Linked DNA regions of Homo sapiens. The protein of the gene in region 2 interacts with the protein of the main gene of each other region in a pairwise test. Each region holds a gene or a part of one and is shown on either strand. Other genes may lie near its edges.

Region 1 (7,030 bases), about 67 Mb from region 2:
AAATGTAATTATGATACACCATGAGGCTTCATTTGAACCACAGCTACATAAACCAGAGCCCAGCCTAATATGAGCATTTTTTTATTTTTTTATTTTTACCATTACTGCTACTATTATTTTTTTATTTATTTATTTATTTTAATTATACTTTAAGTTTTAGGGTACATGTGCACATTGTGCAGGTTAGTTACATATGTATACATGTGCCATGCTGGTGCGCTAGATATGGAGTAAAATACCAGAAGTTGCTTAAAAAAGTAGATGCCTCTGTTATTATAAGCTTTGTATACTACTTACTTTTAAACCGTATACATAAGATTGAAATAAAAATAAGATTTAAAAACTGTATTACAGGCCAGGCGCAGAGGCTCATGCAAAATCCCAGCACTTTGGGAGGCCGAGGCGGGTGGATCACAAGGTCAGGAGATCGAGACCATCCTGGCCAACATGGTGAAACCCGTCTCTACTAAAATACAAACAAAAAAATTAGCTGGGTGCGGTGGCACGTGCCTGTAGTCCCAGCTACTCGGGAGGCTGAGACAGGGGAATCGCTTGCTTGAACCCAGGAGGTGGAGGTTGCAGTGAGCTGAGATCACGCCACTGCACTCTAGGCTGGTGACAGAGCAAGACTCCGTGAAGTTAGGAGTTCAGTCAAGACCAGCCTGGCCAACATGGTGAAACCCTATCTCTACTAAAAATACAAAAATTAGCCAGGCATGGTGGCAGGCGCCTGTAATCCCAGCTACTCAGGAGGCTGAGGCAGGAGAATCGCTTGAACCTGGGAGGCGGAGGTTGCAGTGAGCAGAGATTGCGCCATCGCACTCCAGCCTGGGGCACAAGAGCGAGACTTTGTCTCAAAAAAAAAAGTATTATAACAAAGTATACAAATAAGAGTAATTATGGATCAAGGTAGAGATGTCTCGCTCAAAAGTCCTGAGGCCTTTGCTTGATCTTCTCTCTCTGAGAGATGCTGTTGGAATCTAAATTGCTGATGCTGCCATCAGGCTATTCTGATAATGTCACTGAAAGTGGTATCTCTAGGCTTAAGAATTGGAGCAATGAAAATGTGAACAGTGACTGCCAGGGAATCAACATTTCTAGGGATGCTCATTAGAAGTAATGACTCACAATTCTGTTAACCATAACAGCAGGTATCATCCTAACTCACGGCACCTACATATATGCCCTTACTGTTCTCTTCCTCTCATTTCCCACCACTTTTGTATTGGTCTTAATACTGATCTGAAGCATAATTGTTTTATGTAATAAATTTTATTCTATGTTTTATGCTTCCTGGGCTTCATTTCAAAAGCCAGTGAAATTAACTTTAACTCTCTAGCATTTAAACCGTCAAAAACAATTAAGTAAACATTCAGTGGTATAATTTTTCCTGGTGTGTATTGTTTTATTGCTATTTTTGTGTTTAAATCTTTACCAAACAAGCTATCATATTACTTATTTTATGAAATGGATTTCGGAAGACAAGATTCGATCCAAGAAGATTATTTGGTCATTATCTATACTGTTGATAACAGATCTCTAAGGTTCAAAGTAATACTGTATACTAAAAAGGGTTCTGGTCCTATATAAACTATCTGGTGAGGTGATTAGCCTCCAATTCACTATTAACTCTAACTGAACAAGAATCCTACCAAATATCTGTCAAGACAAGGGGATCCCATACCTACCCAGAGTTCTGGTTCCCATTAATAAGACACATACTATGGAAGATATATCAAAATAGCATAATACTTGTATAATAATTGCTCCTATTTTGACTACCTTCATTCAGTTCGTCATTTTGCTTTTAAGGATTACTGTCCAAGCATGGCATAAAAAAGAAAAAGTGGTTGGATACAGTGCTCATGCCTGTAATCCTAGCACTTTGGGAGGCTGAGGCAGGAGGACTGCTTGAGCCCAGGAGTTTGAGACCAGCCTGGGCAACATGGCAAAACCCCGTTTCTACAAAAAATGCAAAAATTAGCCAGGTGTGGTGGTATGCACCTGTGGCCTCAGCTATTCAGGAGGCTGAGGTCGGAGGATCACTTCAACCTGGGAGGCAGAGGCTGCTCTGAGCCAAGATCGCACCACTACACTCCAGCCTGGGCAACAGAGCAAGAGCCTGTCTTAAAAAAAAAAAAAAAAAAAAAAAAAGGAAAAGAAAAGAAAAACAAAGCAGGAGGATCTTGAGGCCAGGAGTTTGAGACCAGCCTGGTCAACACAGCGAGATCTCATCTCTACAAAAAATGTTGAAATAAAAAAAAAAGAAAGAATCAACACTTAGGTTGCTTCCTCCTTTTTGACTGTTGTGAATAATGCTGCTATGAACAGGGGTATACAAATCCCTCTTTGAGACCTTACTTTTAATTATTTTGAGTATCCCAGAAGTGGAACTGGGACTAAAAGCTAAATGCAACAAAGGCAGTTCTGGTATTACACTTAATACAAATGCATTTAATCTTATAGTCACCTGGGATTCAACAGCTCTTAAGAGTGTTTTTTAAAAAATTAGTCTTGTTAAATTTTAAGAAAAGCAATATCTTTAATTATAATATTAACATCAAATATTTTTATTTTCTTTCAGTGTTGGCATTGCGATTTTCTAGTGTCTGAAAACATTTATCTCTCATGTAACATTCACGTCTTATTTCAGACAACTGATCTCTTTAAAATCCTGTCAAATCAATGAGTAAAACTGGCCCACTACAAAAACATTACTACTTACCAACCTCATACCCATTAAAATGGCTATTATCTAGAAGGAAAAAAAAAACAAACCCAGGATAGAAAATAACGAGTGTTGGCTAGGATGCGGAGACACTGGAATCCTGGTGCTTTGTGGGTGGGAATGTAAAACGGTGCAGCCACTATGGGAAAACAGTATGGTGGCCCATTAAAAATTAAAAATAGAATTCCCATATGACCCAACAATTCCACTTCCGGGTATATACTCAAAATAACTGAAAGTAGGGTTTCAAAAAGGTATTTGTATACTCACATTCATACTGGCATTACTCACAATAGCCAAAAAGGTGGAAGCCACCTATGTGTCTATTAACAAATGAACAAACGAAATGTGGTACATACATATAATGGAATATTATTCAGCCTTAGAAAGGAAATTCTGGGCCAGGCACAGTGGCTCAGGCCTGGAATCCCAACACTCAGGGAGGACGAGGCAGGCGGATCACGAGGTCAGGAGATGGAGACCATCCTGGCAAATGCAGTGAAACCTTGTCTCTACTAAAAATACAAAACAGTAGCTGGGCGTGGTGGCAGGCACCTGAAATCCCAGCTACTTAGGAGGCTAAGGCAGGAGAATTGCTTGAACCCAGGAGGCAGAGGTTGCAGTGGGCCGAGATCGCACCACTGTACTCCAGCATAGGCAACAGAGCGAGACTCCATCTCAAAAAAAAAAAAAAAAAAGGAAATTCTGACACATGCTACACAATGGATGAACCTTAAGGACATTATGCTAAGTGAAATAAACCAGTCATAAAAGGACAAATACTGCCACTTCATGAGGCATCTAGAGAAGTCAAATTTATAGAGACAGAAAGTAGAACGGTGGTTGCCAGGGGCTGGGAGGATACAGAAATGGGGAGTTGTTTAATGGGTACAGAGTTTATTTTTGCAAGATGAAAACGGTTCTGGTGATGGATGGTGATAACGGTTGTACAACATGAATGTGCTTATTGCCCCTGAACTGTATACTTAAAAATGGTTGAGATGGTAAATTTAATGTTTTATTTTACCACAATTTTTAAAAATAATGAAACCACTATTTTGCATAGGAGCCACAGTGATATGTCATAAAACTGTAGCAAGAACATATTCCCTCAAAAATCTTACGTAAAGAATTTGGCTGGGTGCAGTGGCTCATGCCTGTAATCCCAACACTTTGGGAGGCCGAGGCAGGTGGATCACTTGAGGTCAGGAGATCAAGACCAGCCTGGCCAACATGGTGAAACTCTGTCTCTACTAACAATACAAAAATTAGCCGGGCCTGGTGGTGCATGCCTGTAGTCCCAGCTACAAGGGAGGCTGAGGCACAAGAATCACTTGAACCTGGGAGGTGGTGGTTGTGGTGAGCCGAGACTGCGCCACTGCACTCCAGCCTGGGCAACAGAGTGAGACCCCATCTCAAAAAAAAAAAAGAATTAAATCAAGGTCTTAATGATCAAATTTAATACATCTCTGGTTGAAAAGACAGAGGCACAACACTTTACTAGGTTTGGTGAGCAAAAAGAAAACAACTTAGTAAAGAAGGATCCCCTGCACATACTACACTCATAGGCAGAAGGTGCTCCTACCTCCCCCATTCATCCTCCCTTTGGGTATCTCCTCACTGAGCCCTCCCTGGTTGCCTCTCCTATAGCTCAAGTTCATCACAGACTCCCCAGGGGCACAACCCAATTCCAAACCAGTTGGTGTTTCTAGAAAGACTCATTCTAATGCTATCCTCTTTCTCAAAACTCTGTGTTCCCACCTATATCCTATTCCCTGAATGCCCTAAAACCCATTCTCTCAACCAGACTTCTTCACAGGACTAGGTCCAAATTCCACCTAATCTGAAGCTCTAATCCACAGCACAATCTACCAGAGCCCCATATCTTCCAAAGAATTCTCTTCTACCAGCATGTTCTGGTCCTAACTCAGCTATGTATGCCCAGCCCTAAAATATTTCAGAGTGCATAAAAACTACCAGGATAGCTAGTTAAACTTGCAGATTTCCACCGCTCATCCCCAGAGATTTTCACTCAGTAGGCCTAATGTGGGGCCCTGGAATACGCACTTAAAACAAGCATACCAAGTCATTTGATGTAGCCTAGCACTAACCTAGGCTAGCCACGTGAGCCTAGGTAAGCCTGAACTAGCCTGAACTCCCAGCCAACTAATGCTTTGGATACAAACCCCATATTGTCTGTGCTAAAACTCATGAGAATAATCTGAGCTGCCCTACACCCTTCCCTCCACCGGGAGACTTCTGTGAATAATATGAATGTTCATTATATTGAACAGATTATATGTGTCTGTATCACAAGGTAGCTTAGGTTACATCTGTTTTCAAGGTTGGATCATATCTGCCCTGACTGATGACCTCACAGTTATGAGACTCTTTTAAAAATGGCAATTTCCTGAGGAAACAGTACTCTTCAGAGGCATGCTGCAGCCTGATGCAGTAACTAAAGGATTCCCTGCCTTACACCTAGTTTCAACTGACCTTTTAAAAGAAAAAGAAAAAAAAAGAAGAAAAAATGCTTTAAATGTATCCAATAATTTTGCACCTCTAACTTTCCACTGAACCTTTTAGAAAGTTATTATGAGCTTGAGGTCTGAGGGGCCTAAGAAGTGCCCAAACCACATTTGATGTCATTTCCCTGCAAAGGAAATGTGACACCTACGCCGAACTGCCAAGGTATTTTAGCTTATATACAGGGATAGATAAGCTTCTTAAAAATTACATTTCCAGTCTAATTATTTTGCAATTTCAAATTTATCACTGTCTGACATTATCCATGCCTATACAAATGGCTTAAAAAGAAAAATGGAGCCTAACAGGATATTTAGAACTGCCTGGAAGTTTAAAAAGTATGAATTTTAAATTCTGAGCAAATCAATATTCTGTTTTCCACATTAAACATATGGAAATTAATATGGACATGTCAACTATATTTGGTTGTAAGTGACTCATTTCAATACCTGGCATGTCTGAGGACTAATGCGAGAGCAATCTGGTAAGAGAAAAAAAGGTCATATGGATAATGCAATGAAATGGAAAGATCACTGGACTCTGGACCAGCCGTATTCCAAGGCTAGCTCTACCATGGCTTGGCTGTATGATCTGACTTTGTGGCCAAGGGCAATTATGAGACTGTTTTCAACAATGACAGGATACCTATCAACCTATGACCTCACAGAGACACTGGGAAGACAATATACATGAAATGACTTTTAAGCTGTGTTTCTTCAAAACGATACATTCCAAATTACCCTAGACTGTGTTCTTTTTGCAGTGCTAGTACGTGGTCTATACTGGAAAGTTCCTTTCATTTACTCAGTTGATTCACTGAGGAGCTGCTCTGCACAAGGCTCTATGTTAGGTACTGAGGAGGACTAGAGAAGAAAATGTTAAGGTGTAAACTGGTTGGAGAAACAAAGTACAGCCATGTGCCATGTAACAATGCTTTGGTCAACGACAGACTACACATATGATGGTGGTCCTATAAGCTTATAATACCGTATATTTACTGTACCTTTTCTTGTTTATGTATGTATACATACACAAATCTTTACCATTGTGTTGCAACTGCCTACAGTATTCAGTACAGTAACCTGCTGTACAGGTTTGTAGCCTAGGAACAACTGGCTATTCCATATAGCCTAGGTGTGTAGTAGGCTGTACCATCTAGGTTTGTGTAATTATACTCTGATGTTTGTACAAAGAAGTTGCCTAACATATTTCTAACATATTTCTCAGAATGTATCTCTGTCAGTAAGAGTCACATAACGGTGTACATAATGATTTCATTTCTAAGTGACAAAATGAGTGGTTCAAACAGTACTATGGATTGACCATTCTAGCTTTCCATCCTCTTGTCCATGAGAAAGTAAATGCACTGTAAACTGATCCTAAGAGACAGAATACATAAATCATGTAAACATTTGGTGTCTAACCCTGTTACAATAATTTTTCATTTTTGGCTTTAAAAACTGTTACCAGAACTCAGTGAAGGAAAAGACATGGAAAGAAAACATTTCTCAAAGAAGGTACCTATGAGGTACACTAAGTACTTCATCTAAACTCTCTTTGGGCCAGGCATGGTGGCTCATGCCAGTAATTCCAGCACTTTGGGAGGCCAGGGTGCATGGATCACTTAAGACGAGGAGTTCAAGTTTCAGCAACATGGCGAAACTGAAAAACAGAAAAAATCAGCCAGACATGGTGATGTGCACCTGTAGTCCCAGATGCTTTGGGGGCTGAGGTGAGAGGATCACTTGAGCCTGGGAGGCTGAGGCTGCAGTGAGC
Region 2 (7,030 bases):
TGCACACTATTATATGCTTTCTCATATGTATGTAATTTTCAAATAGCCTGATCTAGAACTTACTGATGGCGTTAGCGCAGCCTTATGCCATCAGGTGAGAAACTGTGAACTAACCACTTAAATTTCTGAAGGTGCAGCTGATACACATTAAGTAGCAGAAAACAAATAGAATGACCACAGAGATAAAAAATGGGTGTCCATTTTACAAAAAAAATTCCATAATTAATTATTGCAAATCGCATATAAGTGAGGCAATGATATAATCTATAGTTCCTTTAAAAGTTTTCTAGAGCTATACATTTTTCACTAATATTAAGAAAAAAGAAAGAAATCCTTAAGCTAAACAACACCTTCTGTAAACAATTACTCATTCAAGGTAATGCTCTAAGGAACGTAAAATTTATTAAGGATTAAGCTAAAAATTAAAAATGGTAGATTTTTAGGAAAGAAAATAAAGCTTAATAAATTACCCTGTAAAGTCAGCTGACAATCTGAAATGACAACTGAGTCTGCTAGGCCCAATTTGTTCTTCAGTTTAACTGATACAAAACAGTGGAAGCTCACTTCACTCATCTCTCCACTGCCTCGGTAAAACATAGTAATGGATGCTCAGAGCCGAATGCCTGTGGCTAGAAGGCTACTCTTCCTGAGGGCCTCTCCTCCCAAGTGAATTGTTTGCCCACAGAATCTCTGTTCCTAAACATGTTTTTGCCAGGTGACCTCACTGTTGTCACTACATAAAGATTACATAAATGATAAACTATGAGTAAAAGACAAGAAGCTGTTTTTATGAAAACTAAGTTGAACACTTTGGGAAGACTAAGTGAAGGTAAATCATTCAGAAGATAAAAAGCTGTTTTCTAATAACATATAGGTGAGCTAAGGAACTTCAATCAGTAACATACTCAAAGGGGGGGCTTTAGTTCAACATTAGAAGAATGATGAATACATGTATATTTACATATTCTAAGTTAAAATAAATTGTTTAGATATTTTCTATATATACTTATGTATATGATTCATCACTATAAGTTTTCCTAGCAACTAACCAATAGGTTCAAATTGTGTCAGATAAGAGCACTTCTATATTTGGTGGTAGTAAACTAGTGCAGGGTATGAAGACAATTAAATGGAAAGACTCACATAATTGTTTTCTCAAGAAACTGTACAAAACACATTTCTTAGTAGCACAAAGAGAGTGACAAGGGGCAGATTTATAATGAGAAGTCACAGAGAAAATTTATCAACTGAATGAATGATTCTGGAGAAATGCTTGTACTACTACTGAGTGGCACTTCTCTTTGTTCTTCTGCTGTTTCAGACAGTAACTAAACTTTACCCTTACTTCCTAGACATCCACCATGTTTCAAAATGTATTTTTAAATAATTTTTTTCCATACCTTCTCTTTGAGGAAATCAGAGAAACTTATATACATTTTTTAGGTAAAAATAAGTGCTGGTCTTGGTTATCCTTTGCCTCCAATCTCAATGTTTAGGTTGGTATTATTTCCCAAAGCTAAAGCAAACAAAATTGTGCAACTTTGCTTAGGTTACAAGCAAACCAGGGAAGCAAGCTACAAGGCATAATGCCTGCTACCAGTTTCTACCATGAACCAGTGGCTTATACTTCAAAGAACAAATCTATACATTCACATAAAGTTTGAATCCTTGGAAAATAACATGCTAATAATCTAATATTGTGGCTTATACTTCAAAGAACAAATCTATACATTCACATAAAGTTTGAATCCTTGGAAAATAACATGCTAATAATCTAATATTGTCTTTTATGAGAATGCCTTTAGGTATTTTATTCTTTTTAGAAAAGACAATAGGACATTTAGATGATAATATTTTTTTTCCCACTTTCAAATTCCTCCAAGTAATCCCTGCAGTAGTTACCAGACTTACTTTTGCCTGCTTTTGTAGCCTCATATTCTTTTTAAGAATTTTTAAAAATTATTTTTTTTTTTCTTAAAAAATTTTTTTTAAAAATTATTCTATTTTATTTTGTAGCCTTGTATTCTTTACCTGTATGGGAAAGGTATTTGATAGTTCTGATACAATCAAGTATAAGACAACAGATTTAATATTCTAAATGAAAAGTGGCAAACAAAGAATATGTGATAGAACTATTAAGCTGCTACTCCTAGGTCAAAATTTAATCACAAAGGGCAAAAAGACCATCAAATGATTCACAAAGAGTAAATTAAATAGGGAAAACCAATGCACACCACCAACTCCAAAAAGATCAAAATAGAACAAAGTTAAGTTGACTTCAAAATGTAATAAAAGCACATACATCAATGAGATATTTTTCAGCTTTAAAAATTGGAAGGAAATCCTGTCACATGCTACATGGATGAACCGTGAAGACAATATGCTAAGCTAAGTGAAATAAGCCAGTCCCAAAAGACAAATACTGTATGATTCTATTCATATGAGGAATCTAAAGTAGTCAAATTCAAAGAAAAAAAGAGAGTGAAATGGTAGTTATCAGGGGTTAGGGTGAGGCGGGGAAAGGAGAGTTGTTTAATGGACTTAGAGTTTCAAATTTGTAAGGTGAAAGAGTTCAACATCTACTTCACAACATGAATAGACTTAACACTACTAAACTGTATGCTTAAAAATTGTTAAGATGGGCTGGACGCGGTGGCTCACGCCTGTAATCCCAACACTTTGAGAGGCCAAGGCAGGTGGATCACAAGGTCAGGAGATCAACACCATCTTGGCCAACAGGTGAAACCCTGTCTCTACTAAAATACAAAAAATTAGCCAGGCGTGGTGGCACGTGCCTGTAACACCAGCTACTGGGGAGGCTGAGGCAGGGGAATCACTTGAACCCAGGAGGCGGAGGTTGCAGTGAGCTGAGATTGCAACCCTGCACTCCAGCCTGGCGACAGAGCAAGACTCCGTACCCACCCCCACTGCCAAAAAAAAAAATTAAGATGGCAAATTTTTTTTCTTTTTTTCACAATTAGAAAAAAGAGTTAAAAAATGTAATAAGGCCAGGCGTAGTGGCTCACACCTGTAATCCCAGCACTTTGGGAGGCCAAGGTGGGCAGATCACCTGAGGTCAGGAGTTTGAGGCCAGCCTGGCCAAAATGGTGAAACTCTGTCTCTACTAAAAATACAAAAATTAGCTGGGCGTGGTGGTGTGCACCTATATTCCCAGCTACTTGGGAGGCTGAGGAACAAGAATTGCTTGAAGACGGGAAGAGGAGGTTGCAATGAGCCAAGACGGTGCCACTGCACTCCAGCCTGGGTGACAGAGTAAGACTCTGTCTCAAAAAAAAAAAAAAAAAAAGTAATAAAATACTTAAAAGGCATTCTCATAAAAGACAATATTAGATTATTAGCACGTTATTTTCCAAGGACTCAAAACAGAGAGATGTTAACAACAAAGCAAATATATGTCTAAGAATCATTATTATTCCTCTGAAAATAAGAAAGTATGTAGAAATTTTTTTTGAACTTTAATTCATACCAGTGTTAGTTATTATTAAAATTAGCAAAATGCAATCAATATTATAACTAGTATTAAAAGCAAATATTTAAAATGTATAGTATAAATAGATTTAGATTTAAACTTAGAATGAACTTTCTTAATACAAATAGTTAAATGCTTAAAAATTTAACAAGGAATACTTATTATAGGATAGGACTAAAGCTACTGGCCAATTTCAAGTCAGGCAATACATACTTTTAGTCTTTAGTAAATTCAGTTTGAAATTGATGTAATTTTGATGTAATATTTTTATATTATACAACTTCAGTATAATACCATCTGTACTCATTTAAAGTAAATGACAAACACTTTAAAAATACATGTTTTTGAGACCTGTACTCCCTTATTAAATCGTGATCCTTTTATCATCTTGGAATATGGAAATGGTCTTGGAACCATTTTATCTTCACAGAAGTACATCGCTAATCTATCACAGGAATCAATATACAAATATTATTGCTTGCTTACCTTTTCTCAAAAGTCAACTTTTTATACTACAAAGTGAGATTCAAACTGATTTCAAAGACTTCAAAATGTTTTTGGAATATCTTTTTTTTAGTTAAAGAATTATTTTCACAATTCACAAATAAATTGACAGATACGTAGAACAAACTTCGATGTACTCTAACATTTAAACTGGGCTAAATGTAATGTTCACTTTTTCCTTATCTCTCACATTAACTATCAAATTAAATGTTTCCTCAGGGTAAAAGAAAATACATCAGGAATCTTATATAATTTATATATTAAGTATATCATGGACTCAACAAATTAAATCTTTGTACCAAGCCAGTCACCCTTTCATATACACAAATTATGAAAGAACATACTATCACACAGCACACTGAGAATCAATAAATCAAAAAGATAATGTAAAATTTAAAAAAAACAAATCTAATAAGAAATTAATTTTATTTTTTAATCATTATCATTAAGTAAGAAATTAAACTGAAGTTAAGTATCCAGATCCTGTATCATCTTCCTGCCTTAGGACACTCTGGCTTTTGCTTTGAAGAGAGCTTAATTTACTTAAAAATGTTTATACTATTCAACGGTCCTCTTGGAGATAGTAAAAACTGGTGATAACATTTTTAAAAGTTTAAAAAACTATCCTTCTTAACTATAATTTTGACTAGATTCTTCACACACTCTGCTAATTAGTGCTTAAATCACGTCCTCATCTCAAATAGTTTAATAAAAAATTGGCCATTATCTATCATCTCCAAACTACAAATTACAAATATATTAACAATCTTAGGAACCATTTGCTTCCCTATTAGTGCAGAAAGATTTTGCATAAAAAGCTCATTAATTCTTTGTTGAAAATCTGGCACTAAATATGAAAATACTAATTATAACACAGTCAATTATCTTATTTTTAAGATGCTCAAGACATTTTCATTCATCTGATCACAGAGGATTTAGATGGACTAGCACTGGAGCTGCTTTCTACATGGCTTAAACGTGCCCAGTACACAAAGTCAATTAGGAACAAAATCCTGGCTTTGGGATTCTGACGGCTCAGTGTTCTGGGTATATCATTTGAAACCGGGCTATGTTATTTTAAAGTATGATATATGTTTTCACAGCAAGTTACTTACTTCAGCACTATCCTGAATAGAAGAGCTGTTGTTATAATGCTAAAATTTGAGAAGATAACAGCCATGGCCTAGAAAGAAAGAGAAGATAGAGTTACAATCCAAATGAAGTACTGACCTCAGAAATGTCTTAGCTTGGCAGTTCACCTGACAAAAAAAGCTTTTTGGTCAAAAAACAGAGGGGTTATTAAGGTAGCAATTTCAACTAAGGATTAAATTCCAGTTTTGTCGCTTGTCAAATTTACGTAGATATGATCAAATTATTGTCCAGGCATTGCCTGTGTAAATAATCTTTATATACAGATCTGAAATTACTTATAAATTCTAAAGGTTTAGGTTTAGAAATGACAGTTGCTATGCTTATGAAGCCTACTTTTCAAAGTTCTCAAAGCGCCTTATGGATTTTTAACACTGTTTCTACGGTCACATAGAAGGCAGGTACTGTATGGCCCATTAATATAGTAAGAAAACTGAAGTATAGATTTTTTTAAGCATCTTTACCATTCTAGGAATTGTATCAATTTTCCTGGTTGAACTGCAGTAACTCAATACCAAACTCATACTTGACAGCCCTGCGCACTGATTCAAGTTGTTCTAAACACTTAGAAATGTATCAGCCAGATTTTAAAACCATTTGTTTTTACGAATTCAGTCCTATTTCACACATGAGAGTATTAATCTGAACATGTATACATTATGCTCAGAAAGCATGAAATTCCATCATTGCTGCCCATAATTAGATCTGACAATAGTTAATAATTTTTTAATGCAAATCTTAGGATGTACTTCACCCTGCCTTCCTGCTTGCTATCACTTTAAGGTGATTAAACCCCAAAAGATATTAACAGTCATATATACCCACTAATTAAAACAAACATGGCTAATATGAAGCTAAATTAAAGATAAAACTCAATGAAAAATGGCAACAACTCCAAGAATATAACATTGTTGTTTTTCTATTACATTCTTATGGGAACCACCATTTTAAGGTTTTCTCAGTGTACTTCTCTGTAGGCAAATGCCTGTGAACCCCTAGTTAGGAGATGAGTAAGAGGAAAAGAGGAAAGTGGCTGTGAAGTGTGGAAATAGTGGCCTTGATCAATCACATTAAGGGCAGTGCAAAAGTGCCTAACCATGCAGCCTGACGGCTTGATGAATTCTGAAAATTCTGAATACTCTTTCCATGCAAGAGGATAAAATAAAAACATCAGAGCTCTTTGGCCCAAACATTCCATGCATCTCTATTTAATTCCTTCAATAGGCTCAGGCACAGCAATACACAGAGTATGCATGTGTTTTATTCTGTAAGATATATGGTTGTTCACAATCAGGAAGGAAGAGCAAAACAATAAGCTGGAAGAAAAATAAGGAAGTTGCCATTTTGCTTTGGTACTGGGGGACACAGAAAAGAGACACAAATTTAGAGTGAATCTGTGATAAAATACAATAAAATGTATTGAATTTGCATAATTTTGTTGGGGACAGCAATTCTCAAAAATGGAAGAATTTAGGAGAGAACAGATCCTAGGTGGACTGGACACTTATTAGCAACATGCATTACAGAGCCAAAGAAAACTTCAGGTGATCACCTGGCCCAGTTCCCTGCCTTTGAACTAGTATATTATTATTATTATTATTATTTATTTCATAGAGGGGGTAACTGAAACTTAAAGCAGTTGGGCCTGCCTAGTTACACAGCTTCTAAACTGTGGAAAGTCGGCCGGGCACGGTGGCTCACGCCTGTAATCCCAGCACTTTGGGAGGCCGAGGCGGGTGGATCATGAGGTCAGGAGATCGAGACCATCCTGGCTAACAAGGTGAAACCCCGTCTCTACTAAAAATACAAAAAATTAGCCGGGCGCGGTGGCGGGCGCCTGTAGTCCCAGCTACTCGGGAGGCTGAGGCAGGAGAATGGCGTGAACCC

What was found. Proteins that work in one complex are often made in the same cells at the same time.
Region 1: the proteins of SLC35A5 (region 2) and SACM1L interact in binary tests that used the Homo sapiens proteins (3 or more experiments, as listed by UniProt).

Annotation. Positions count from the first base shown.
Region 1 is NC_000003.12:45,692,394-45,699,423, reverse strand, and holds part of SACM1L (phosphatidylinositol-3-phosphatase SAC1), read right to left. Parts: intron 1-7,030.
Region 2 is NC_000003.12:112,572,036-112,579,065, reverse strand, and holds part of SLC35A5 (UDP-sugar transporter protein SLC35A5), read right to left. Parts: intron 5,178-7,030; coding exon 5,110-5,177; intron 1-5,109. UniProt on the Homo sapiens protein: Probable UDP-sugar:UMP transmembrane antiporter involved in UDP-alpha-D-glucuronate/UDP-GlcA, UDP-GlcNAc/UDP-N-acetyl-alpha-D-glucosamine and UDP-N-acetyl-alpha-D-galactosamine/UDP-GalNAc transport from the cytosol to the lumen of the Golgi.